Homo sapiens: one gene and its partners. The protein of the gene in region 2 interacts with the protein of the main gene of each other region in a pairwise test. Each region holds a gene or a part of one and is shown on either strand. Other genes may lie near its edges. The genes, in order: BANK1, BLK, JAKMIP1 and CRKL.

What was found.
Region 1: the proteins of BLK (region 2) and BANK1 interact in binary tests that used the Homo sapiens proteins (3 or more experiments, as listed by UniProt).
Region 3: the proteins of BLK (region 2) and JAKMIP1 interact in binary tests that used the Homo sapiens proteins (3 or more experiments, as listed by UniProt).
Region 4: the proteins of BLK (region 2) and CRKL interact in binary tests that used the Homo sapiens proteins (3 or more experiments, as listed by UniProt).

The regions. Positions count from the first base shown.
Region 1 is NC_000004.12:101,786,275-101,793,749, reverse strand, and holds the start of BANK1 (B-cell scaffold protein with ankyrin repeats), read right to left. Parts: upstream 3,021-7,475; 5' UTR 2,870-3,020; coding exon 2,800-2,869; intron 1-2,799. UniProt on the Homo sapiens protein: Involved in B-cell receptor (BCR)-induced Ca(2+) mobilization from intracellular stores. Promotes Lyn-mediated phosphorylation of IP3 receptors 1 and 2.
Region 2 is NC_000008.11:11,553,387-11,560,412, reverse strand, and holds part of BLK (tyrosine-protein kinase Blk), read right to left. Parts: exon of another isoform or gene 6,833-7,026; intron 6,284-6,832; exon of another isoform or gene 6,210-6,283; intron 5,671-6,209; coding exon 5,524-5,670; intron 5,082-5,523; coding exon 4,929-5,081; intron 4,828-4,928; coding exon of another isoform or gene 4,562-4,827; exon of another isoform or gene 4,551-4,561; intron 4,348-4,550; exon of another isoform or gene 3,756-4,347; coding exon 3,576-3,755; coding exon of another isoform or gene 3,498-3,575; intron 2,524-3,497; exon of another isoform or gene 2,452-2,523; coding exon 2,375-2,451; exon of another isoform or gene 2,148-2,374; intron 1-2,147. UniProt on the Homo sapiens protein: Non-receptor tyrosine kinase involved in B-lymphocyte development, differentiation and signaling. B-cell receptor (BCR) signaling requires a tight regulation of several protein tyrosine kinases and phosphatases, and associated coreceptors.
Region 3 is NC_000004.12:6,197,525-6,205,006, forward strand, and holds the start of JAKMIP1 (janus kinase and microtubule-interacting protein 1), read right to left. Parts: upstream 3,026-7,482; 5' UTR 2,729-3,025; intron 1-2,728. UniProt on the Homo sapiens protein: Associates with microtubules and may play a role in the microtubule-dependent transport of the GABA-B receptor. May play a role in JAK1 signaling and regulate microtubule cytoskeleton rearrangements.
Region 4 is NC_000022.11:20,948,382-20,954,248, forward strand, and holds the end of CRKL (crk-like protein), read left to right. Parts: intron 1-1,329; coding exon 1,330-1,464; 3' UTR 1,465-5,366; downstream 5,367-5,867. UniProt on the Homo sapiens protein: May mediate the transduction of intracellular signals.

The DNA of each region.
Region 1 (7,475 bases), on a different chromosome or scaffold from region 2:
ATATACAGGATTTCTTCTCTTGGATTTTGCTTTTTAATAAACAAAATAAAAAACTAAGACAGTGACAGATTTCATTATTTATTCAAGGTCACAGATGAGACAGGCAATGAAGCTGGGACTAGATCTGAGGCAGTATGAGTCAAAAGACCATCATAAGTAGGGCATAACCACCTACAATACATCCTCAGATAGATATTGCAGAAAAGGTTCCTCTACTGTCCCAAGTGTAACTTTGAATATGCTGATATTTAACCTTGAAATCTTCAGCAATTGCATTTTTCAGAATTATTCCTTATTATGGTGAAGATATCCTGAAAGCACTCCTTGTCTTTAAAATCCTAGCAAAAGTGACCTTATCAGAACATTTCCAGATTGGTCTGAAGAAAGCAAGTTTTTCCAGCCACCAGCATGGAACCAGGTTATTTCCTTAGTGGAACAAGTGTAGGACGTTGGCTATGTTGGAAGATTGCAGTCAAAGCAAAAAGCTTCAAATCTTTAAGAACTTCAAGCTAGAGAGCAGAGACCTAGACAAACCATGTTCCTTACAAGTATAAGCATCCAGCGTAAGGTGAAACAGTCTAAATGCTAATTCCACCCTTTCATGCTTTCTGTTCTTAAGCAAATCATTTATTAAAGTTTCATCAGATGCATCCAATAATATCAATAAAAATTTAAAAAAAACTATGGTGTGGAGAAAAATCTGTGATTTAATAAATAATCACTCCCTAATTAAAACAGCAGTTAAAATTAAATTTTTAAAATCATTAGTTTTGGAATACAACAGGAAGAATCTCTCTTTTGGACATTGATAGTAATATATAGTTAAATACAAACCAGAAAATACATTCTAACTAGAACTTTCACCCATTGTGCATCATTTTTACCTTGTTTTAGAGAACTGGGTATTCTATTTTTCTTGCTTCCATTAAAGAACAAGTCGATACTCAACAGTTAATAAATCTCTGATGGCAGTATACACTAATGTTGTCTAGCAGTACATTCTATCTCCTGCTAGAAATATACCTTCCTGGGCATGAAACTGTGTTTACCATTTTACATTCTTATTACTACTACATGACTCTTGGCAGGGAATAAAAGTTTGTTAAGTTAATGAATGGGTGACCTTCAAATAATTACTAGTTATGAAACCATGAGCAACTCACACTCTGGATCTCAGTGCTCTCTTCTCTAAATGAGGCAGTTGGACCAATTGACCCCCAATGTGCCATATTAAGATAGTTGTTGGAGAGAGAGGGAGCTCTTCATTAAAAAAAAAAAAACACACACACACACACACACACACACACAAACCACTGGATTTATAAAAGCTAGAAGATTACTCATATCAAGAATATGGGCATGGGATAATGTCAAAAGACAATTCGTTTTTAGAAAAGTTTCATTATGTTGGCCAGAAAAGGAAGTAACTGAAGCAAGTGATAAATACTGCATGGAGAAGGACCCAAGGAGTTGGGAGGGGCGGGGCGGGGGGGGAGCGGAATGCATGGGAGGAACAAGAATAATTGGAATGCTATAAATATTGATTCACATTACTCTTGCATTATTCACAATAGCAAGTGCCTCAAAGTATTGCTTAGTATCAAGTGAAATAAAAGGCATTTTCTGCCTAAACTGTTTAATCTAGAAGTTTGAAACAAACTGTACCCCATTCTCTAACAAAATTGTTAAACTGAAATTACAAAAGAGGTAACCTGCTCAAAGTTTGAAAGACATGGTTGGTTTATTTATAGATGCTAGCAAAGTCTGCTCTGCTGAAGACCATCAGAGCCACAGTTTTCAAGAATGTCAATATGCAATAGTTAAAATATTAATAATATTAAGTTATGGGCTCTAAGTCCTTTCTTGTCACTTTTCATTGACACAAATATACTTCTTATTTAACTGAAAGCAATCCCTAAAGCTTATTTATGTAAAAATGCACTAGCCAACAGAAATAGCTACAACCAAAATTACATTACCTAAAAAATTCTAGAAAGGTATGAGAAATTTATTTCTATTCAGCAAATTAAGAAACTTTCACTCAGAATATACTTTCTTGTTGCATTTCTCACCACGAACACTCCAGTAATATTAATACCTAAGTGAAGTTTTTTAATTTAAAAAACATTTTTATATCACTGAGTAATTTGCAAATGCATTTGAAATGCTTCAAAAAGAACTAAATAAAACTGCCTTAACGTCCATTTGAAAATATAAATCTACTTCTGCATTCAACCAAGTTGACCGTTTTCCTTTGACCAAGTTAGTAAAGCCAGTGGAGTAGGGAGGTGGTGTTGGTAGAGTTTCTCTGCAAAGCCACCTGCCAAGAAGCAGGGCTACCAATTCACCAGGCTGGGATTTGTCAGGCCGGGCAGGTAAATGCGTGACGCTACACATGAGCGGTTTTTCTGTGCTTACCGACTGTTGAAAATAATTACGTATAATTTTAAACGCGCATTGCTTTAAAACAGGTTGCAAAGTGATTTTAGAAACTACAGGACCCTGACCCGGGTGCTGGGGAAAGTTCCAGCTCCTCAGAAGTTGCAGACACTGAGGGTAGCCCGCTGGCCAGAACTCCCAGCGCGCTCCCTCCTCGTGGCGTCCAGATGCCCCTCAGAGAAGTCAGGGACAGAAGAACCCTCTGGGCTGCCTGGCGGCAGGATAAAAAGGAGAAGCCCTGTCTCAGGGACGCCCTGGCCTCAGTGCCCGAGTGCAGTTGTCTAACGATGGCCCGTGGTCTCCGCAGAGCCCCGTAGCCCGGCCTCGGCGTCAAGCCCCTCCGAATGCGCGACTACCCACCTGGGGGCGCTGGGCCGCAGGGGGCGGGGTCCGGGCTCCCAAGCCCCTTGCCTGGCGCTGCTGGCAGCATTGTGGCGGTTGAAGCCGAGGGGCCTGCGCACTGCTGCCCGCCGAGCGCTACCTGGACTCTCCCGGCCAGAGACTCCCCGCGATTTTCTCTTCCTTTGGCCCTCGGCTCTCCCCAGCCCGCTTGCCACCCGCGGAGGCTGCGGCCAGGTCTCAGGAAACGCAGCCCCGGGGCTCATGCCCGCAAGGCCAGGGCTCCGCTCTGCTGGGCGCCCAGAGGAAGTGAAACTGCTCAGGGGCCTGCTCTTACATCCCTTCTCAAAAGGCCGCTTTGGTTTCTTATAACACTTCTGCGCCTGTTTCCTTCCTCACCTTTTCATCCTAGGATATATTTAGACCGCTGTTATTGTAGCTCTCCTTGTCCCTTTCTAGGTCTTCCATACTGCCATACTGCCCCCACTTCCAGGCAGACGTAGGGAAACCAGAAGTGAACATTTGCTGGAAAGAAAGAATAATTAGATAGATAGATGAGTAGGTACACAGATGATAGATACATACATATAGAAATGAAGATACAGATAATACTGTAACTTTTAAAATATTTCATTTTACACAGACTTTCTAGGCTAGGTTCATAAATTGAAAAGTGATTTAAAATTCCATATAAAATGTATTTCTTACTCCTGCTCCAACTCAAAAATAGACCCAGTAAAAAATTATTTATGGCTCTAAATACCCTCTCCAAACAAGAGTTTGTTTGCTTGTTTTTAAGATGGAGATATATCAAAGGAGTTGTCCCAGAACCTTAAAGTGAATGTCTCTCTCTCAAGCATGTCTAAACTAGTCATTTGCCTTTTGAAGTTGAATATATTTTTTGAATATCAATTTGGTAATAATACATAGTTTAAATGTTCCTCTCCTCTTCCTATAAAAGGAAGGCTTTCTTTGAAACTTTCTCTCGGATGAAGTGCTTTTTAGTAATAATATAAATATCAAGTATCAAAAAAAGTTAATTTTTTCACATAAATGAACTTATTAGAACTTTATAACATAATGTAGAAAACTTGGAGAAGTATGCGAAATGTCCAAAAAACTTGAAAACAATTATAGATTGTATTGTATTTATCTGGTTTCCAGTAGTTTCTTTAACATCATTATTAATTTTATGTTGATTTTCTGAACTTTATATAATGGAACAAAAGATTTCATCTAACTTATGAAATATTATATTGAAAAAAATGGTTGTCTTCTATATATGCCTGTTAACAGAGAGACTTCAGTGTAATAGGCAAAAACAAATTTGGATTGCAGGGTTTGGGTGTTGTTCAGTGTTTCAGAAACTCAATTCTTAGGAAAGTATGTCTTAAACCCATTGGAGAAAAGAATATTCTAACTGATGCATCTGCTGGTATACGTATTCCTGACAAGAGCTACTTTAGCCAACATGAACACTCCAGATGATGCTCCCCAATTAAGTATCCAGATCTTCAAAGGCACCCATTTATGCACACGAAAACTTGTTAATAAAGACAGTGTTCAGATAGGAACTTGTATCTGTCACATATACAGGACAGCCTTCTTGTATGAAGAGCCCTGGATTGGAAGTCAGAAGGTTGCAGCTGCCATCCTGACTCTGCTCCACAATATCTGGGTGTTTGGAGCAATTCTTAATATTTCTGAGCCTTGCGTATCTCATCTAATTTATTCATTATTAATGAATAAATTAAAATTACTGTATTCGAGTTTCTGCCAGATATAAAATGTTATAACACTGTCTCCTAATAAAACTATAGAAAATAAGATTTATAATATGAAAATTAAGTATATTTTCAGAAGCTCATTTCCACTACTTATGTCAAATGATGCTAGTAAATAGAAAAAAGAAAGTAAAAACTGCTGAAAATTGTGGGCTGTTTTTTTTTTAAAAAAAATAAGATTATGTGTTAGAAAATCTTTAAAATCTCCCATTAAAATTATTCTAGCTTCACTTTTCTTTTGAATAAGAAAATAGCCATTGACTACCCCATTGACTGACTTATTTATTCTTTTGTTTTACTGTTTGCAGTCAACAACTACTCTTTTTTTAAGTATTCTATATCCTATGTTCTATGTAAGAGTTTCACAATATTCATGTCATTTGGTTCTCAAAACAAGGAAGGTTTAACCATATTTTACAAATGAAGAATCTGGGCGTTGAAAACTGTAAGTGGCAGAGCTGGAATTCAATCCTAGATCTGATTTCATAGCCTGCCCTCTTAATTATAACTGCCCCCCTCCCCACCGCTTCCTTTTAAGGTCACATAAGGCCCTTGCTAAAGATTACATGAACATAATAGGATAGGTTATACATATATGTGTTGAAAACGTTTTTTGTTTCCCTATCCACTTTTCCACAGAACTATAAGCCCATACAATTAAATACTAATATCCTTAAAAATAGGTATGAACTGTACTTATAATTTATTACAATTTTGGTGCTATTTGGTTGAGGATATATAGATGTTCACACACGCGCACACACACACATACACGTGATAACTTAAGTCTACATGTTTTCATACTTTGCTGATGCATTTATAAAAATATATTTTAAAAGATTTTTTACTCATTTTGGTCTTGTTTCTGTGTCAAGTACGTCTTTAATCACAGTTGACTTTATTTTTCCCCTGCTTTCTCCCTTAAGGAGATGATACCATCTGGAATGTTGGGTTATCTCTTGGTTCATACTTGTTCTCAGGAAAGAGGCACTTAGCAATTCTCACACCGAGAGGCTTTTTCAGGCAAAATACCACCAGCAGTGTGTAATCGCAGGTTTCTGATTTTACCTCTGTTACAGAATGACAAGAAAATGCTAGTCACAGTAGGTTTCTCATTTCTCAATATATCAAACTCTTGGATCCATTGACTTCTTCCCTTGCATTATTTTTTTTAGCGGCATATTGACAGCCTCAATATTATTACCCCACTCTGTGAAGATTATAAAAGCCTCACACTGGCCCTGTGTTCCAATAAATGGACAGCTAAAGCTGTTTGGTGTTGCCCTGCAGTTGCCATGGCTGATTTCTTGTGTCCTTTGCAGACCAGATGCTGTTGTGCATGCTAATGGCTTTATTTCTGCCTTTAGATTCTGGATATGTTTAAAGAACAAAACTGGTTCTTTTCTAAAGCAGTAATCTATTGTAAAAGTGAAATAGTTGCTTCTTCATGGCTATTTGTTAATTGGGGAATATTCCTCTTGACAATCATGTCTGGATTTTTAGACATTGAATTATATTATTCCCCCAGGGTGTTAACTACACTTCTTATTTACTCCCTCAAAACTAAACCAAATACCAGGGATGTCTGAAGGAATTTTTAGCAATTTTTTTTTGTCATTACTGGGAGGCTTTATTTTCTTTTGCTTCCTCACATTTAATTGAATTCTTTAATACTAATCTGTGTAGCAACCCCCCAAAGAGGTCCACATTCTCATCTGCAGAACCTGTGTATATATGTATTTACCTGGAAGGTGGAATTAAATTAAGGATCTTGAGATGGGAAGATTATCTTGGATTATCCAGGTGGGCCCAGTGTAATCACAAGAGTCTTTATAAGATGGGGGCAGAAAAGTGAAAGTTAGAGAGGAGGTGTGATGAGAAAACAGAGATTGGAGGAATATGCTTAGAATATGGAGGAAGGGGCCACAAGCCAAGGAATACAGGTAGCCTAAAGGCAAAGAAATGAATTCTCCTGCAGAGCCTACAGAAGGAACCAGCCCTGTTGACATCTTGGCTTTTAGCCAAGTGAGACTGATTTTGGACTTATTACATCTATAATTCTAATATAATAAATTTAGTTTGCTTTAAGCCACTAAATTGTAGTAATGCGTTGCAGCAGTAGCTAGCTAATACGTTAATTTATGGTGATAGGAAGCTAACACATAATTCACAGTGATGAGTTTGGAGGAAGATTCATTAATAGGGTAAATCTTTGTGCATTCTTCTAACTAAACATACATTAAAGAACATTTAATTCCCTTCACCATTCATGTTCTAAGTCCCCATGGAGCAATATCTCATTGTTAATTGGTGATTGTGGTAGCTATTTGATATTCCTTCCTGCATGGCTGTTTGCATTATATACTTGCTTTTGTTCTCTAGTGATTGTATAAATGTGCTGATTCTTCTCTTTTCAAGTATATTGAGTCTGACTTGTAGAAGTAAGCAGGTTTTCTGCTTATACCATAGCACACACCACCACCACTGCCCCTCCAGTTAGACTCCTGGCTGTGCTAACAAGCAACAGTGAGTTTGCTGGAAGGAACCTTGCTCCGTAGATCTGACTTTTTTTTTTTTTTTTTTTTTTTTTTTTGAGGCGGAGTCTCGCTCTGTAGCCCAGGCTGGAGTGCAGTGGCGCAATCTCGGCTCACTGCAAGCTCTGCCTCCCGGGTTCAGGTCATTCTCGTGCTTCAGCCTCCCAAGTAGCTGGGACTACAGGCGCCCGCCACCATGCCCGGCTAATTTTTTGTATGTTTAGTAGAGACGGGGTTTCACCGTGTTAGCCAGGATGGTCTCGATCTGCTGATCTCGTGATCCACCCGCCTCGGCCTCCCAAAGTGCTAGGATTACAAGCGTGAGCCACCGCGCCCGGCCTAGATCTGACTTTTAACAGACAATACTATAAAACACTTG
Region 2 (7,026 bases):
ATGCATCCATCCATCCATGCATCCATCCATCCACCCACCCATCCATCCATCAACACATCCATGCATCCATCCATGTATCCATCCATCCATCCATCTATGCATCCTTCCATGTATCCATCCATCCATGGATCCATCCATCCATCCACCCACCCACCCACCCATCCATCCATCCACCCATTCATCCATCCATGCATGCATCCATCCATCCATCCATCCATCCATCCATCCATGCATCCATCCATCCACCCACCCACCCACCCACCCACCCACCCACGCATCCACCCATCCATGCATCCATCCATCCCCTTGCTACACCATGCAATCAATACTCATTTACTAATATGGGACTGTGGGGAATATAAAACTGAGTACTAAATATATCTGGGCAGCATCTAACAGTACTCGTTCTGATAACTAATATTTATTGAACAGTACCAGAAATATATTTTAAAAAATGTTGAGTAGGGCCCAGATCTGCTTTCAAGAAGAAGCTGCCCAGATCTGCTGAGCAAGAACAGTGCTTCCGGGAACACCTGAGCTAAGGGCTCTCTGGCAGTTTCTTGTCCAGGGAAACCTTCATAGAAATGACATTACGCTTGAGCCATGGATGATGATAAGGATTCTGCCAGGTGGGAAGTGTTCAAGGCTTCCTGGGCAGAGGAGGTAGAGGGGTGGCGAGGCATGGGGCATGGGAACCGGTGGCATCTGGCTGCAAAGTGGGGCCCGAGGGATTGTGATTGCAGGGTTCCTGTGGGGTTGGCCAGATCTGGCCTTGGAAGAAAGGTCTGGCGAGACTTTGCATGGCTTCCTATGGAGTAAGAAAAGAAGAGCCCAGAAGGGCCGGGTGTGTGTCTGCTCATGTGTGTGTAAGTTTGCGTGTTTGTGTGTGTGTTTGTGTGTGTGAGTTTGTGAGTTTGTGTAAATGTGTTTGTGTGAGTTTGTGTTTGAGTCTGAGTCTGTGTATTTGTGTGTCTGTGTGAGTTTGTGTGTGTGAGTCTGTGTGTCTGTGTGTGTGTCTGTCTGTGTGTGAGTTTGCGTGTCTGTGTGAGTCTGTGTATGTGTTTGTGTTTGTCCGTGTGTGTGTGAGTCTGTGTTTTTATGTGTGTGAGAGTGTGTGTGTGTACATGTGTGCTTAGAGAGCCATTGGCATGGTCAGCATGTGGTTAGAGGCTGCCCTTCTGGGAAGTTCTGATTTTCTGGCTCCTCACCCCCGATTCTGTGGCTACATCCAGGTATTAAACTCCGATGGCTTTTCACATCCTTTGCCCCTGGGTCACACGAGATTTCCCAAGGGGGTGTAGTGGGGATTGAATAGGAGACAGCGGAGGGTGAGAGAAGGAAGGGGAAAGGAAGCAGCAGCAGTGGGCAGGCTTATCACTGCCCTGGGGTTTGAAGCCGGTTACCAGCACTCATTTTCCAAAACCAGCCTGCCCAGATGGCTGTCTGCCCACCTCAGCGGAAAAAGGCGTTGTGGCATCAGTTCCTGCAGCGGCGCTACTGGGTAAGGCTGGGCGAGGGGCGAGGTGGGAGGGCTGATGTGGGCGGTGGGTGGGAGCGTTTCCTCTCGGTGGCAGCTGTATGTGTGTGTGTATGTGTACGCACGTGTGTGCCTCACAGGCTGACCACAGACCAAAACTTTTCTGCTGAGAGTTCCAGTTTTAACAGGGCCACCAGATGTGCTTCCTGCCAGCTAGAGCTCTCGGCTAAAACCCTCCTCTCCACTCTGCTCTTCACCCCATGGAGTCCAGAAAGTTCTGCATGTGAACGTGAGGGACACTGAGGACCAGTCCTGGGTAGCCAAGGAGGTCCAGCACTCGCAATTCCCTGGTGGCAGAAGGTGGGGCTGTCCTCCAGGGCTCAGAGAAGTCATGTCCCTGGCATCTGTGTGTAGCTCAGGCCTGCCCATCAGCCTGGGGTCGACGCCAGGGCTGTGCAAAGGCTGAGGGCCCCTGGGATGGGAAGTCCTACAGGAGATGTTTGTGGGCACCATCTAAGGAAGAGATGAGGTCACAACAGAACACACTTGCCTGCCGGGTTCAATGGAACTCTTGCTAACTCTGTGTGTTTCCCATGACATTCATTCGCCCTCTCTTCCTTCGGAACAGAATAGCCTCATTCCAACACAGCAGCCCGGGTCTAAGGCTCCATTCCCTGGGCTCCCTCACAGCTGCGTGGGGCAGGAGGCACAGTGGCCAGGGTTTGCAAGTCCAAGTGCAGTGGGTGACCTTGGGGATATCTGCCTAGAGGAAGGTGGCCTTCAGTACCCCCTGACTTCTCCTGCTGGCTGAGAGGATGGGGTGGTAAGGCACGAGCAGCCATTGTGGGCAGCAGGTGGCACATGCCGCCCTTTCTCTGCACCTGGTACTTCACCAACCTGCGCCGACATGTCAATCAGCCTTGGGAGTGACAATCTGCTCCCTTCATCTGTCTTCAGGAAATCCAGCAGGCATCCTAAGAAAAGAGAAGTTGCAAGTGCCCTTCTGCAAAGTGACCCGCCCCTGGTGGTGCCAGCCTCTCTCTGGTGTGAGTGGCTCCCCATGGGCGCGGGAAGTGGGAGTTTGCACCCTCAGATCTCTCGGTGCATCAGGAAGGATCTACCTACTGCTGCCGAGTGCCTTCCACTTTACAAAATGCCAGTCTCAGCACCCCGGGAGGCAGCCAATATACCAGCAGTTGCCCAGAAGTTAGGTTTCAGCCAGGTGCAGGGACCTGTCTGAAGTCACCCAGCCGGGAGCTGGGAGTGGGACCCCAGTTCTGACTCGAAGTTTCATGCCCCTTCTTGTCTTTCCCCCCGTGTTGGCCTCGCTCCCTTGATCCCTGCTGGCAGACACCCTCTGCCTCTGAGGACCAGGCATCAGCAAGAAAGCACCAGAATGGAGAGAACTGTCCCCCAGGTTTGGTGCAGGGGACAAATGCAGCTCCCCCTGGAATCAGAAAGCTGGGAGGGATGGATGCTTGCCCTAGGGGCAGGCTAGAGGCACCCCCAGCACAGCCTCCGACCGGGGGCCCCTTGGTGACAGTTGTTAGGGAGCTATATCAACATGGGCATGTTAGGATCCTATAGGAGCAGTGTGCGGTCAGGGTCATAGGAGGGTGAGAAAGTGGCATGAGAACTTGGCCACGCCGTGGACCTCAGAGGCCATCAAGCCCAACCTCTCTGGCCATCCTTGTAAAATATTCACACAGTTGTAAATGGTTGCATGACCAGGAGGCAGGAGACCTGGATCTAGTACTGTCCCTGCATGCCTGGCCTGGTGTTCGTCTGACTTTGCAATGCTCTGTCCCTCCCAGCAGGCATCAAAGAGTGCTAGGCACAGAAGATGCACTCCAGAAATGCTGTCTGAACTGCTCCTGGGCTGAGAACATGGCTCTGTCAGAACCACTTCACCCTCCTGTTTCTCACCCTCCCTCTGTCCCTCCCCCTCCCTCCATCCCTCCCTGTCCCCACACCGTGCCATGCCCTAGATCTGCAGGACCCCCTGGCCTGGTGAACCCACCGCAGCGGACCCTCCTCCTCCTGCTAAGCCCGGCCCTCCCGCCTCGCTCTGAGGATGCGGCTCTGCGGGGGGCACCACCTCTGGCCATGTACTCGGTGACAATGTAGATGGGCTCCTTGGTGACCACTGCGTAGAGTCGGACCAGCCGCTCGTGCTGCAGAGCCTTCATCACGTTGGCCTCACCCAGAAAGGCTTCTGGAGACATGGTTCCCTCCTTCAGCGTCTTAATGGCCACCTTCATGTTGTTTTTGTAGTAACCTGAGCCCGGGGGAGTGAAGAAGCCAATCAGAAGACAGAGAGCTTGCTCGGAGGTGATCCCTTAACCAAAATCGGGGTAAGTGCCCAGGTGCCACCCCATTCCAGGTGCCAGAGCTGGAACATGCAGTTCCGGAGGCCATGGTTGTGTGGTGCCTACCTTGCGTTCCAGGTCCCTTCTATATGGGGCCTCAGGCAGTGGAGGAATGTACCCTGCCTGGGGGGCATTTCACCTATTTGCCCCACACCCTGGGCCTGTGTCCTTCTGTCCTGCACGGAACCTGTGTCCTTCCCCCACCCCTCCCCTACATAATGAGTCTCTTCTATCACACAATAACTCCTTGGTGGAAATAAGCACACAGCCTGGGGTACACTGGGCAGGAGGATGACGCATGGGGGTCTCCTTCCCTCCTTCTGAAGCCCCATGGCGATCCTGTCCCACTCCTTAAACTATCTGTATCTCCACACTCTCCCTGTACTCCATGAAGTCCCCTGAAGGGCAAAAGACAACTCTACTTGCTTTTCTAGAGGACATGGGCCTTGGCAGGGACCTGGGTACAGCTCCTGCCAAAAGCACCGTGGGCATCAGCCCCAGGTAAGGGAGCACTCATGGACCAGCCCCAGGTAAGGGAGGACTCATGGACCAATCCAGGGATAAAACGGAACACGAGTTTTATATCCTGGTGGGCGGGGGGGGGAAGGGGGCAGGTGTCAGCAGCGATGGAAATGTGAGGACACCAGGCCTGGAGCTTCAGTGACTTGGCCAAAGTCCCACGGCTGCCCTCGGTGTGCACTCAGGCTCTGGAACATCATGGCTCATCACGTTTAACCTCCTGTTTCCATCTGGGTGATGAAAAGCTAAGGGGAGTTAACGCGCCGCTGCAGCTCATTGTCAAAGCCAGCTTCAGGCAGAGAACGAAGGAGGGAGCGACTTCGGGGCTGGGTGAGCTGGATTCTGTTCCTGCTCTGCCACCACCATAAGCGGTCCCAGCTGTTACAACGCGGCTCTGCACCTCCACTTCCTCCTCTGTAAAATGAGTGTCCTCGCCTCTGTCCTCGCTCCCTCTCAAGACTTCTGGGGGAGGGATGACACGCTATGAAAATGCTGAACCTGGACTCAGGATGCGGCGCAGGTGGAATGGGGGGAGAAATGCTCCCACGTGTGCACACACTCACCCATCCAGACTTCGCCGAATTGTCCAGACCCGAGTTTCCTGACCAGCCTGAGAGACTGCCGGGGGATCTCCCATTCATCCTGGGCCCAGGGATTCTGCGGGGCCGGGCGCACACAGGGCAGGGTCAGCCTCTGGCATAGACCATCCCCCTTCTCTGCATTAGGGAAGAAAAGACAGGGCTGGGGGTTACCAGAGCAGCCAGGCTCTACCTTGGGAGCTGTATCATTCCTAGCTGGCCCTCCACTCCCCAGCCACCCCACCCCCTGCATGGGTGTGTGCACACGCCTGCACATGCACACACACTCAACTCTTTCTCTTCGTTTGCGCAAAGCAGGGCATGCTATCTCTAAAATCGACCTGCTCACTCTAAGACTGAAAATGCTTGCTACTCTCTAAGGGGTTCCCTGCTGAGCCAGGAGAGGGAATTAGGGCCACCAATTCCCGGTGCTCAGAGTTGCTACCTCCTTAGGCCTAACTTTGGGATAATCTTTCCATCCCCCAAGGTGGCACCAATGACTCACACAATTGGGAATCTTAGCGAGAGATCCAGGGGCTCTTGGCACAAGTCCCTGCCCCCATTGCACGCCCCCTCTTACTAGAATAGTGCTGCACCAGGGCCTGGAGCGAGGGGAAGGTGATCCGGGGGGAGATGTAGTAGCCCCCTTCATCCAGGCAGCGGATCTTATAGTGCTTGATCAGCTCCCCCTGGGTGGTGACATCCTTCACAGACAGGGAGAAGGCACCTGGAGGGTTCATGAAGACACACACGAGAAGTAAGGCACAAAGACAAAAAACGGGACTGGGATTTGGGCCTCATTTTAAAGCTTTGAAAAAAGTTCCCCAATTCTGTTCTTCATTATCAGCACTCCCTCCACAAGTTTCCTTTCCCTGCATCTCAACCTCCATGCTTTTGGAAGCCTCCCCTGTAAGTTCCATCTGACTCTGACCTTGGCATCCCCCCACTATCCTGCAAAACTCAGCCAGGGAATCACAGAGCCCTGCGGCAGGCAGCACAGTTTCTCAGCAATCATGTAGGTCCCCACTTGGGCATCTGGTCACTCGGGGACCCTTTGTCATGGACTATTGAGAAATCTAGTCTCGTTGGAGTGACTAGGGGCTTTATTTTCTGGCTAAAGAGGGTATCTCTTACTCCTACAAGCAGATAGCCATTCACAGCTGCAAGTACCCATGTCCATGGCGGACACCGTAATAAGCTATGCCCAGGGGCTCTGTTCAAAGTCATTTGCTGCCTGTTACATACACCTGTTATTTTGTCTTCTAGGTTAATGTTTTCCCGCAGGCAAGTGGTAGCAGATGTCAAGGGTTAAGGACAATTTAGGAGGTAAGAATTTCCAGGTAAGAAACGCTTTTCCATGAACTTGATGTTTTTATAAAATGCGTCTGTCCAGCTACTTGGGTACCATGACCTTACCCCGCCCCTTACCCATTATTTGGGAGATGAGGACGCTGGGGCCCAGCAGAGTTCGCGGCAGGCTGGGGGGCTCCCGGTTCCCCGAGTCCGCGCCTACCTCGAGCAGTACCACGCCTCCCCGCCAGGGGTCAGGCACGGACCCCTCGTTCTCGTTGTGGACGCTTGGTTTTCCGCGGTCCTGTTTGACTTAAGGCTCTTTCCTCTCCTGTCAGTTCCCCTGCCTCAACCCCCTTCCATCCTCCAGTTTCCCTCAGCCAATGTGCCTCTCTCATCACCTACTTGCAAAAGGACACCCAGAGGCGTACGCCATGCTGTTGCCACAGCCCCTCCACACCCCCACCCCAGCCTCAGCCCAGAGGCTGCAAACTGTCTCCCCGACCCTGCCCGGGTGCAGCTGTGCCCCCAGTCTCTAAGGAACCCGAGCCTGGCCTTAGGGAGTTCATTCATCAAGGGCTTTTCTCTCCATTTTGTAGGCTGCACTTGTGTCGGGTGCCTCGGGCGATGAGCCCAGGAGCCCGCTCTCCACGCAGTGACGCTTCCCAAGCTGGTGCTTTAGACCCCTCACTTGCCTGGCTGCTCTGAGGCCCCGTCCCTGATGGCTTCTGACAATTTGGTGTCCTTTGTAAAGACGACCTCAGATCCTATCAGCTTCAGTTTCACAAAACCT
Region 3 (7,482 bases), on a different chromosome or scaffold from region 2:
GTTAATCTTCTTACCCAAGATCACACAATGACAAGGGATAAACTACAGGCAAGTCCAACTTCAGAAGCCCTGCAGGTTGATCCCGTCGCCACTATGGGGAGAGGAGTGACCCAGCAGAACTGGGACACACTGCAGTCATCCTCAGACTCCCCAAGGGAAGCCCCCATTTAGTTAGAAAGCCCAGCAGGGAGGCACTTGCCCAGTCACAGCTAAGTGAGGCAGGGCCTGAATGGGAACCCTGGCAGTCTGGCTCAGAGCCTGAAGAGACACAAGGTCCCACCCTCGAGGAGTTAAACAGATAGCCATAGCCTGCAGTGGCAATTGCTGCTGGCTTAAGCATTAGAAATTGTTCCCTCTGCCACTTGTCCCACAGCCCAATCCACCCTTACACACCAAGAGAGTGGGGCCACGGTCCTGCCACTTCCTCGTGCAGCCTTCCTGGCCGGGCCGCCTGTCCCCATCTCTCCCTGCACATGACTCTCTGACAGCACGGGCAGTGTCTGTGTGGTCACCTCCCCAGGAAAACAGAGCCCCCACCAAAGTGGGACCATCTCTCAGGCCACCTCACTGTGTCCCGTGTCCCCAGTCTCTAGTGGGCAAGATCTGCTTAAGGAAAAACTACACAAACAAATATCACACTGTATGTGTATAAAAAGTTCTGAGAACACAAATGAGAGAAGCACACAATCTTTCCGGCAGAGTCTGGGAAAATCACACTGATGGAACCTGAGAGCTGGGCTTAATCATGAATCGTTCTCCACATACTCAAGGGAGGGGAGCATTGTTTTAGACGGGGGGAAAAAGAAGCATGTGGGGGAAAAACCCAAGTGTGAAGACATGTCTACGCAACACAGAGGCAGCAGGCGTGGCTGAGACATTGTGGCAGGGAGAGGGGAGAGATGGGCTGGGGAAGCCAGGATGTGAGGAACTGGTGAGGTCGTGGGGGCGGTGGGAGTCATGGGTGGTTTGTGAAGGAGGAAAATGCCAGTCATCTCATGCATTGGGTCCACACTGTGAGCCTTTGGGAGCTGCTTACTGCAAAAAGACTACAGATAAGAATTACCCCAGACTCCAGAGCAGAGATGTTCAGCATTACAGACCGGTACACACCTCAACAGCAACAAAAATCTTGCAACAAGCCACAAGCCTCCACTGTGCGCTACAACATCAGTCTCTGCAGAGCTGCAGGTCTCCAGGAGGGTGGAAATGCCCTGCTAGGAAAGGATTCTAATTCCCCCACTCTATCCCCGAATGTGTCCCTCCTCCTTGCCCATCCCAGCTAGTGGAGCCACCACCCACCAGCCCAGGGTGCTACAGGAAGGGCCAGCTCCTCCCATGGCCTCGCCCTCCACACCAGCGGGTTACTCTGACTTAGGGGGGATGGCCCTGCTATGCCCAACATTCACTGTGGGTGGAGCCCTGGGAGAGGGGCTGAGGCTGCCCCTGCCCTCCTCCCCACCTCCTCCTCTGCTCTGGAAGGCAGAGGCCATCAGATGGTAACAGCATCCTGGGACAGCGCCACGTTCCAGGAAAGCTCAGGAGGGGCAAGGGGATCTCCCTGACTACAAGGAGCTGGCCAGCTGAAGTTAGGGCGTTCGCGGAGAGAGCACAGCACTGGCAAAGGCCAAGGACAGTGTGCCTGCGAGTGTGCGCAGATGGGGCGGGCGGCGGAGGAGGGCTGGCGGTTAGATACAGTATCGCTGGAGCTCAGAGAGCCGGGCAGAGGCTGGCGGAGAGCCGAGGCTGGCCCAGCCTTCAGGAGACCGGCGAGCTGGGGTGTGTGGGAGCGGGATGCTTCTAAGGCGAAAAGAAGCGCCAGCCTCGTAAGCGGCCTCTATCTGGGCTGCCCAGGCCGGATGCTCAGGAGCCCACAGCAGGGGGGATGGAGCGAAGGACCGAGGGGCTGGGAGGCGAGGCCGCAGCGCACTGACGCAGGCCAGCGAGGCCGCTGGCCCCGACGCAGGGCGCCCGGCAAGGTGTCTGGCACCACGAGAGTCAATCCTTGCGCGCCATCTCCGGAGGCCAGTGCGCCCAGGGCGCGCCGGCCCGGCAGGAGGGTGGGTGCCAGCCTTTCTTCCCATCTCTCGAGCCTCCTCCCCGGCGCCCACGTGGGCGGAGCAGCGCGAGGGTGTGCGTGGCAGGGGCCGCGGCGGCGTGTGCCGTGCGTGGGGTGGGGTGCGGGCTGGGCGGCCTCGCCTTCGGGCCCCGCGCCGCCGGGGCGCGGCCCCCAGCTCCATCTTCTTTGCCACCTGGGCGGAGATCTGGGGGACTGTGACCTACCCTGCGGAAGACACGGAGGGGACGGGCCGGCCACACCCCCCGCGCCACTCCGGCAGGCACCGGGTGGGTCCCCCTCCCGCTCCTTGGCTTGAGGGCGGAATCCGGAGAAGAGTGGAAATAGGGGTGGCGTGAAGGAGAGCTGGGGGCTGGGGGCGGGACCGGGAGGGGGTGTTGGGGGAAGCGACGCAGCGGCTGGGAGATTTTGCAAGGGGGTCTGAAGAGGAGTGGGGGATGGGTATGGAAGGGTGGGGGACCACTGAGGTGGGATGCGAGAGTGGAAGGGGGACCCAGAGGGGGCGCGATGGCCGGAGGAGGGGGAGATGGACGATGGGGCGGGGCGGCACCGGTCGCCGCGTCCCTTGCCGCCAGGTCCGCCCCTCGGTCGCCGGGTCCACGGGTTCCCTCTGGCCAGCGCTCGCCTCCCGCCCCCCGGCGCACCTGTACCCACCTGCTCGGCGCTCAGGCCCGAGCCGGGCAGCAGCAGCGGACGTAGCGAGCGCAGCCCCGCGCCGCATCCTCCGGCCGCCCCCTCCCCGCTGCGAGCTTACGCCGCTGTCGCCGCCGCCACCGCCTTAAAAAGGACAAAACGGAACAGAAAATGAATGCATGCACAAAAAAAATCGTAAAAAGCAATTGAGGAGGATGGCAGTCGCGCGCGCGGCTCGGCGGGGCGGGAGTCGAGAGGCCGCGGCACTGGTGGCCGCGATCCGGGCAGGCGGCCGGCGCGTGCCGCACGCGGGTGGCTGCAGCTCCCTCGGTCGCCCGCGCCCGGCTCAGGCACGGCACCGCCCCTCCCCCCGGGGAGCCCCTCCGATTGGTCTGTCTTCCTGCCAGTCAGGCAGGAGGGCGCGGCGCCCGCCCCGCCCCGCCCCCGCCCCCGCCCCGGGCAGATGCCGGGAGCTCTCCTGCCGCCGTGGGAGGGGGAGCTGAGCTGCCGGAGCGTGCGCACTGGGCCAGCGGGCGGCCGGGGCAGGGCTGGGGTCCCGGCGCTGAGCGCCCCCAGCCGCGCCGGGCAGCCTGGCGCCTCGCTGAGTCGGAGCAACCCCCGGCAGGAGCTTTCAGGCTCTGGTCAAGCCTCGGGACCCGGGAAGCTATCCCTGCCCTCGGGGGCTCGAGCCTGGAGTGGGGCTTGCAGGTAAAGCGGGGCTGGGGCCGTCCTGGCCGTCAGTGGTCAGGAAGACGCAGCGACCCCGGAGATCCATGTCCCCCTCTGTACGCATGAGAGGTCTGAAGGTCAGAGGTTAAAGCGCACGCTAACGGCGGCAGAGCCAGCAAGCGGCAGAGCTGGGCGGATGCCAGCCTAGGGAGCCTCCCCCCACCAGCCCAGGCTGCCCCCAGCAAAGCCACATCAGCAGGTCATAGCCAAATGAAAGATGTGCTGTCGAGCTGAGACTTGGGAGGGGCAGGACTCAGCTGGGCAAACATTCATTCAGTGTCATTAGACAAATATTTATTGAGCACTTGCTGTGTGCCAGGTAGTCACTAAGATGTGGGGACACCACAGTGAACAGCAGAGAGGAAGCGGCTGCCCACCAGAGCTTACTTTCTAGCAAGGAGAAGGCAGGGAAGAGCACCCACCAAAGGGAGCAGCATGGGGGAACACCCTGACTGCTGTGAACGGGACATATTTGAGAATCTGATAAAAGTATCTGGGCCACAGAATGGTGAGAGGGAGTGTGTGGAAGATGGGGGGCGGGGGCACAGAGGGGCAGCACTTGCAAGGTCTTGCAGGCTGGCGAGAGTTTGGAGACTGTCTCACCTGGAAGGTGGTCCCATGGACCATTGTCAGATTGATATTTTTTAAAGTGCATCAGTCAGGATAAGCTATGTTAGCCACAGTAACAACCAAACCCAAATCTCCCTGGTGTGTCTTGCCCACATCATACATCCTGCCTCGGTCAATGGGGCTCTGTTCATCAGAGTGGTTGGGAGCCCAAGCTGCTGGGGCTGTCTGCCAGCCGAGCACCCACATGGTGCAGCAATGTGAATGAAAGGTGACAATTATGCTGGCTTTGAAGGCTTCCTCCCCGAAGGGACTCTCGTCACTTCTGCTCACGTTTCATTGGCCAGAGCAGGTCACATGGCCATGCCTAACTTCAGAAGAGGAGGAAGTGCAGACCTCTAAGGTTCAGGGGGTCAGGAGGAACTAGGATATCTGTGAGCAGATGTGAGACTATCTTTAGCAGATGCCCTGGCTGCCCTTGGGGCATGGGCTGAAGTAGTCAAGAGTGGGGACAAGGAGGCAGTGTGGGGGCCTCCTCCACGCTGATACAGTGAAGTATCAGCGCATCAGAGCAATCTGGGTGCAGAATTGGCAGGACATGCTCACGGCTTGGACGTGGACAGGAGGGAGGGAGGGACAATCAGGGACAATGCCCAGGTATCCTGGGATGAATTGTGTTCCCCCCACCCACCCCCTCAAAAAAAAAAACTCGTATGTTGAAGTGCTCACTCCCAGGACCTCAGAATATGACCTTACTTGGAAATAGGGTCGTTGTAGATGTAATTAGCTAAGATGAGGTCACAATGGAGTAGGTTGGATTCCTAATCCAGTCTGCCTTCTATCCTTATAAAAGGGGGAAATTGGATACAGAGACACAAGCAACGGGAGCATGCCGTGTGAACATGAAGGTAGAGATCAGGTCGAGGCATCAGCTAGCCAAGGAAATGCCAAAGATGGGAGCAAACCCCCGGAAGCCATGAGAGCGGCCTGGGACAGATCCTTCCCCAGGGCTTCATAGGGAGCGTGGACCAGCTGACACCTGATTTCAGACTTCTAGCTTACAGAAGTGAGACAGTGCATTTCTGTTGTTTAAAAAGCCCAGCTGGTGGTACTTCGATACATGTGTGTAGATTAAGGGTTATGTCTGGCTGTGAGTAATCGGGATCACAACTAGACAGCGGCTTAAACAGATTTTTATTCTCTCTTAACAAGAAATGCAAAGGCAAGCTGTTCCTCACTTTATCCTCTCTCACTCCTTCACCCTCAGGATGTAATTTTCTTTTTCAAAATGTCTTCTACGTGGCAAGTTGGCTGCCTCTTCCCAGACATCTCATCACTATTCCAGTCAAGAAGGGGAAGAACAAAAGGCATACCCACACTAGGTCAGCTCCACTTCACCGCTTTCCTGAAAACTCTCCCCAGAGAGCTCTGTTTTATCTCATTGGCTGGGACGGTGTCTCATGGCCAGCCCTGGCTTCAGAGGAGGCTGGGAGTATTGTTATTATTTTTTAAGATGGTGTCTTGCTCTGTTGTCCAGTTTGGAGTGCAATGGCGTGATCTTGGCTCATTGCAACCTCCGCCTCCCGGGTTCAAGTGATTCTCCTGCCTCAGCCTCTCAAGTAGCTGGGATTACAGGCCCACACCACCACACCCAGCTAATTTTTGTATTTTTAGTAGAGATGGAGTTTTGCCATGTTGGCCAAGCTGGTCTCAAACTGCAGACCTCAGGTGATCCACCCACCTTGGCCTCCCAAAATGCTGGAATTACAGGTGTGAGCCACCACGCCCGGCCAAGGATGTTTTTTTTTAATTGAAGGTACATTGCTGCCTGAAACAAAGTCAGGGTTCCATTAGTGAGGAAAAGAAGAAGAATGACTTTTGAACAGGCAACTATTGGTTAGTAGATCCAGGTTTTGTAAAACCTGGAGCCGCTACAGTCCCCCTTAGGAAGAAGAATTTAAAAACCCCAGTACAAGACTTGGTACAAAAATGAAAACTTATTTAGAATAATAACAAATCACAACAAATTTTAAAATATTTTAAGTTGACAAATATCAAAAACGTTGCGAAAACATTATAAAACTAATATAAAATTGTATTAATTGGATACCTGATATCCACCTTTATAATATCTTCTTTTTTTTACATTTTTTGCTTCTTCGTCATTTTTGATTACCTCTTTGGAAGCCAATGATTTTATAATATTTTTCCTGTGGAGAAAATAGATAATTCAGAGTACTCCTATAATGATGGGAACAAATTTTAATGTTGGTTGGAAAACTTTGTCAGCCTCATAACTCATTATTGGTAATCTCAGGTAGTTTTTTGAGATTGTTTTCAAATTTGGAGAAAGGTCTATCATTCTTTCATAAATGAATGCTAACACTTGGAAGAATTCTATTTCTTCCAGGCTTCTTACTGGGATTTTATTAATTTTCATGATGAAAAGCAACTGAACAATTGCAAACCAGAACATGACTCGACTAACACCTCCTAAACCTCAGTGCTGGCGCCCATCACCTGGAGAGGCATAGGAGAAATGCAGATGCCCAGGCTCCTCCACATCCCACTGAATTGAAGCCTCAGAGTAGCAGGGTCTAGGAATCAGCATTTTACTAAATGCCCCAGGTGACTCCTGCTGAGCAGTCCTGGGCTATGCGACACCCCCAGTTGCCTTGTGACTCTGAGGGTCTGCAAATCCAGACCTCTCCTATTGGAAGAATGACATTTTCAACCCTTATGTCTCTTCCTCTGCCCATAGACTCCTGGTGCCAGGCACCATAGCACACATTGCCAGTGCCATGGCAAGGAGGGCACTCCTGGGAGCCATTAGCCTGTTCAGGGAGCAACAACTCGACCCACACAGACTGGCTCAGACCTACATAAACACACCCCACTAAACCCAAACCAAGGCATCCCCAACTCAATCCCCCTTCAGCTACATCCCCAAAATGCCCTTGGCCTCCGCAGCAGCTCCGAAGTGGGAGGAAGCATGATGAGGGCGGCATAGGGAAAGAGACAGAGGGTATTATGGGTTGGATTGTGTCCTCCAGAACTTGAGTGCTGAAGCCCTAACCCCCAGGAGCTCAGAATGTGACTGTATTTGGTGATAGGACCTTTAAAGAGGTCACTGAGCTTAAATGAGGTCTTTAGGGTGGGACCTAATGCAATATGCCTGGTGTCCTTATAAGAAGAGATTAAGACACAGAAGGAAGCCCCTGTGGAGACACAGTGAGAAGATGGCCATCTGCAAGCCAAGGAGAGGGGACTTGGAGGAAACCAACACCTTGGTCTCAGACTTGAAGCCTCCTGAACTGTGAAAAATAAGTTTCTGTTGTTAAAGCTCTTCAGTCTGTGGAACCCTGTCTTGGAAACCCTGGCAGCCAGCTTAGCCAGTTACAGCTAAAATATCTTGCTTTTGGAAAGTATTTCCAAACACAAGGCCACATGAACCCAGAGCTCTGGCTCTCCCAGGCCTT
Region 4 (5,867 bases), on a different chromosome or scaffold from region 2:
TCAGTGCTAATTCCAGCTCTTCCCTTCGTGCATCCAAAGGGTATGATCATTAGAGGGGGCGTGGGGTTGGGGGATGGGTTCTATTCAGGAATCTCTACTCAAGTAACAATCATTTAATTACTGCAAGAACCTTTCAAAGTTGGAAGGAAACTGAGACTTGGAGAACTTAAGCAGTTTGCTACAGTCATGTAGTTTCTAAAAGTGGCAGAACCAGGACATTTGTTTGGTGTCCTGCATGCTCCAAAGTTCATGGCACGGACCATTGGACTGTGCCATAAAAACCTTATGCCTGTTTTTATTTTGAGATGTAGTCTTGCTGCGTTGCGCCGGCTGGTCTCAAACTCCTGGGCTCAAGCAGTCCTCCCACCTCAGTCTGCCAAGGACCTGGAACTAGAGGCATGTACCACGATGCCTGGTTCTATATGTGTTTAAGCAGACAAAAGCTTATTTCTTATTGTCTTAGATCTTAGGTGGGTCTTATATTCAAGTAGCGTTTTTATGGACCTAAGTACACAATACAGAACCTTAGATTAGTGCTCTGCTGAACAGAGTAACACCCTGTCTACAATGACTACCACCTGAAGGTCTTTTTTTAAAATACACCTTTTTGTGTAATTTGACTTTAACCATTCTCAGAATCATGTGTTCATTTCTATCCTGTTGGGGTTAGTGGCCAAAATAGAAGGTTGGTGTGGGGTGGGGAGCTGCTTTGTGCTCAAAAGCTGTTTCTGTGTGTGTGTGTGTTTTGATTTTTGTTTTTTTGAGACAGGGTCTCACTCGGTTGCCCAGTCTGGGGTGCCGTGGCACTATCACGGCTCACTGCAGCCTCAGCCTCATGGGCTCAAGCCATCCTCTCACTTCAGCCTCCTGAGTAGTTGGGACTGCAGTCATGTACCACCACACCCGGCTAATTTTTCTATTTTTTAGAAGAGATGAGGTTTCACCATGTTGCCCAGGCTGGTCTCGAACTCCTGACCTCAAGTAATCCCAGGAGTTCAAGGTTACAATGAGCTGTAATCGGGCCACTGCATTCCAGCCTGGGCGACAGACCCCGTCTATAAAAAATTAAAAAATAATGTGCATGGTGGTGCACGCCTGTAGTCACAGCTATTCAAGAGGTGGAGGTGGAAGGATCACTTGAGCCCAGGCGTTAGAGGTTACATTGAGCAGGGATCTCACCACTACACTCCAGCATGGCTAACAGAGTGAGACCCTGTGTCTAAATAATAATGTATGGGCCCTTTGGATAAGGTAGTGTTTGTGATTTAATGTAAACTGTCTTTTTCTTGTTGCAGAGAAATGCTAACTTTGTCTTCTTCATCCATACAGGTTGGTGACATCGTGAAAGTCACAAGGATGAATATAAATGGCCAGTGGGAAGGCGAAGTGAACGGGCGCAAAGGGCTTTTCCCCTTTACGCACGTCAAAATCTTTGACCCTCAAAACCCAGATGAAAACGAGTGATTGCTGTTGCCCTGTTTCCTGCTGCTTTGTTGTTCTGCCTGTCCTAGTCTCCTTTGAAGTGGGAAAGCATTTTCTCTCATAGGCAAGTCACACTGCATTGCCGAAGTCCAGCTTTCTGCAGACTGGCAGTCGCACACACATTTGGAATGCACACAGCGGCTGCCTCCTGATGTTTGTATCATAGTCGTATTGTCAAAGAGTAGCCGATTTTAGAGTTCTTTTGGATCATAAACTGGAAATACTGATGGAAGCACACAAGTGGAGAGAAGTTGACATGGAAAGGGTCTTCCTTCTCATTGCTGCCCGTTTGTACATGGGACTGATTCTGTTGTGTTCACCAGAGAAAGCTTGAGGCCATGGCGAGATACTGCATGTTTGCTGTTCCACAAAGCAGTGGCTTAGCTGCCATCTTGCTTTTCTTTGGACAACAGGAAGTGAACCTTAAGGAAGAGAGAATTCTGTTCTAAAACTCCAAAATCTGGCTTTTTTTTTTCTTTTGTTTTGGTTTGGTTTTGGAAAACTAATTAATTAGACTTGTGTGGGGGTTTTTTTTTGTTTTGTTTTGTTTGTTTTGTTTTGTTTTTTTGAGACGGTGTCTCGCTGCATCACCCAGGCTGGAGTGCAGTGGCGCAATCTCGCCTTCCTGCAGTCTCCGCCTCCTGAGTTCAAGCGATTCTCCTGCCTCAGCCTCCCAAGTAGCTGGGACTGCAGGCGCGCACACCACGCCCAGCTAATTTTTGTATTTTTAGTAGAGACGGGGTTTCATCATGTTGACCAGGCTGGTCTCAAACTCCTGACTTCAGGTGATCCACCCGCCTTCAGCCTCCCAACGTGCTGGGATTACAGCCGTGAGCCGCCGCGCCTGGCCTAGACTTGTGTGTTCTAAACAGGTTAAGTAGCAGGTTGGGTTTTTATGATAGTGCAAGGAATGACTCATGCCTCTGAGCTTCTAAACTGAAGCTGCTGTAACTAAAGGAATCTGAAAAGAACAACCCTGAAGCAGAGGCCTTTATTGTCTTGGTTGCCAGTAGTACCTTGTTTTGCCATGTAGCAGACAACACACAAAATAATGCAGTTGTGGTGTGCCATGCTATGTGCACAGCCCCTTGGATTACTTTGTTTTAAAAAGCATCAGAGTTGGGGGTACTTTAGGGAAACCTTTGCTTACCTTGTTTTGCCAGTGATAAGAGCAGTGGGTTGGAGGGCACTTGGCCAGTTTTCTGTTCAGCTTTTCAGTGAATGTACCCCTTTAAGGTTCAGACTTAAACTTCCTTAAAAAGTGGCGTTGTTCATAGAATCGTTGGACTCATTAATGAATCGTTCAACTCCACTCACTGAAGCCCAGACCTCCGTGCCCAGGCCCAATCTCGTCAGGCTGCCAGAGAAAGTTGGTGCTGCTCATACTGGTCTCACAGTCTAAGTAAGTGTCTGTGATGCTCCCAAGCAAAGGAAATGCAAGCTCTGGAAATTCGTTAATGTATTTGATGTCTTAGTGTTTTAGTGACTAGGGAGACCATTAACTAGTTTATCATTAACCACTTATCAGTGTATTGATGTTAAAGCATTTCCCTGTTAGCTAAAAGAGGCCTGTTCATACAAGCCAACTGGTATATACGTGTGGTTCATCCATCATCTGCTGCACATAGCAGACTAGAATTCTGGGAACCCTGTGCAATTCAGTCTGCTCTCCCTTGTGGACCCTGGTAAAGAAAAGCCTCAGCTCATAGTGAACACAGCAGACCTAGAAATGTAGCAGCAGCCTACTGAGTAGCTTTCATTTACTGATCATCTGCTGTGACTGTGGCCCTGTCTGGAGGTTCCTAGGTTTTGAGATTTAGAGCAATGCATTCTGGAGACAGAACCAGCAGAACAGCCATTTTTCAATTTTTCTTTAAATCAGTATTCCATCAGGCAGATAACTGCTGTATTCATGAATCTTGAGAGTGTTCCTGAGACAGAATTAATGGTCATTTGGGAAAACTATCGCCATGGCTTCCCATCTGTGGTTTTCCTCTAAAAGCCTTGGAGATTAGCCCTTCCTTGCCAGTGAGAACGGTGACCGCCTCCTGCTCTGCACGGTCTGCGGCAGTTGCCGCTTCTGGTTAGGTGTGTCAGGTTGGCTTATTTTGGGTTCAGGCCTGGCGTAGCACCCACAAGTGGCAGACATATCACAAGAGTCCCCAGACTCTGCCTAGAAACAGTGTTTGCCCTTTGGCCAGTGACGTGGTTCATCCCGGCCCATGTTGAGCCATGAGTGGAGTTTCCAACAGAGGGAGGAATGTGTGCCTTGTTCAAGGAGGGCACGACCCTTAGGCCTTTTTCAACCAGATTTAGCTGAAGGGCTTGACACCTTTGAATTACAGCAGTTGACTCAGAGTGCAAGAAGTCTGGCCATTTTGGAAAGCAAGGTTTCCTTTCAGCCCTGTCTACTGACCAATACCCCGACTCACCTTGTGTGGCGCACTTCAGAATCAGATATACCTAGAGTATACCTGTGGTTTGGTTTTATAATTAATCAGCTCGTTACTTCAGCCCATGAAAATGGCATCCAGGGCTGCCAGGAGATTCAGAGCTCAAAACAAGGCGAGCTTGAGTTCTGCACTCCAGATATGTGCCAAAACTAGTAAAACTTAACGGACTTACAACCTTGTCAGTTTTTTTAATGAGGCAGGGATACTCTGTTTTTCACACTAAACATATGAATGCAGCACTGCTGCCTCAGCTCAGCTTCGTGCCTGGGTTCCCCACTGGTCTGGGAAGACTGTTGTGCTCCATAGAGCAGTGCACATCTGACCCAGAGGGTGGGTGTTCATAACTGCTACTTGCTCTGCTCTACCATGTTTAAAGAAATATTTGGATGTTAAATTAACTCACTATGGTTTTTCACCTGGGAAGGAAACAAATTACGTACTAGAGGGCATTGACTGGTTAAAAACTTGTGTATCCCGGGAAGGACCTGCGGTACAGGAGTCAGCCATGTCTGTGCTGTGTGGAACCACCTGATGACATGGTTAACGAGGAAGACGATGTGTTGACCGGCTGCCGTTTGAGGACTTTGGTCACCCAGACTAGACACCTTCTGTGCTCATGTTTGGAAAGCTGAAAGGGAAGGACAGCTGTGCCCTCCTGGGAGCTCATGTGTCCCTGGCGCTGTGCTAGCTTTCCTTTACAGCTGTTTACAGACAAGGCAGGCCTGAGGCAGATGGCCACTGCTCTTGTGATGTTTGCTCAGAGGAATATGAACATTTTATTTTTGAAAAGGGATGATGTGGTTTTTTGCCAGGTGTTTATAATTAATCCTTTAATATTATGGTTATTAACCTCTTAAACATGAATGAATTCTTGATTGTTTTAACACAGTACCTAAGACTAATGCTTTCTGTGGACACCACTGAGCTCTGCCTCAACTCCACCCTCTGCGACCGGAGGACTATGCCCCTAGTAACTGCTGTCGGTGTGGACGCTGTGCTGGTTCTGTTTTCTAAAGGAGCAGAAGGACAGGTCTCTGAGACAGGATCGTTGTCCCTACAGGAGGAACAGTGGCCTTGCTTCTTAGACGGTCTTCACTGTGTGTTTTAAAACAACAACAACAACAACAACAACAACATAAAACTCTTTTGACCTGTAACTTAAAGATCATAAACTTCAGGCAATAATATTTTCTGTGTAAGCTTTTAAAATTATTTTTGGGGATCATAGCTTGTTTTATTTTGTGCTATAAAATTAACAGTATTAAATGACTTATATTCTTAGAATACATCGAGTGTCTTTTCTTAACAGATTAGTGCCTTTTTATTTTTGTATTCCGTTTTACGTTACTGGTCCCAGCATCAAAACCCTTGTTTCCATGGCCTGTTTGTATATTGTCTCAATAAAACTTGCATCAGCCGGTGGTGGCGGCAGCTTCGGTGTTTCAGTGTCTCCTCAGTCCGCCCCCACTAGCCTCCTGGCAGTTCATCAGTGGTGAAATCTCTGATGCTTCTCAGAGACCCTTAGTGCTGCTGCTGACCAAGAGCTAGAATGAAGTCTTGGCATCCGCCCATTCCAACACTCGGGCACCCAGAGGAGAGCACCTGGGGTCTCCCTCCAAAAGAGAAATCTGCCTCCCAGAGTGTCTGTCTTGTAGGTATTGTATGGGAGCCTAGTGCTTGGCCTTCTGAGCATGAGGCAATAGTTCCCACAGGTTGCACCACCACAGAGAACTTGGATCTTTTTCCTTCTAGGCACCCATATCTGAGGCTTCTAGTAAATATTTCTTCAGCATGAGCTAACCAGGGTTGAATGGTATCAAGCAGAAGTCATGGGAAGTGAGCAGCCTCATTGCAGGTCAGGGCATGATATCTGTGCGGCTTTCTTGAATCCTTTTCTGTTCTTGGCTGTAGGTGGTTCTCCTGATGAACTTT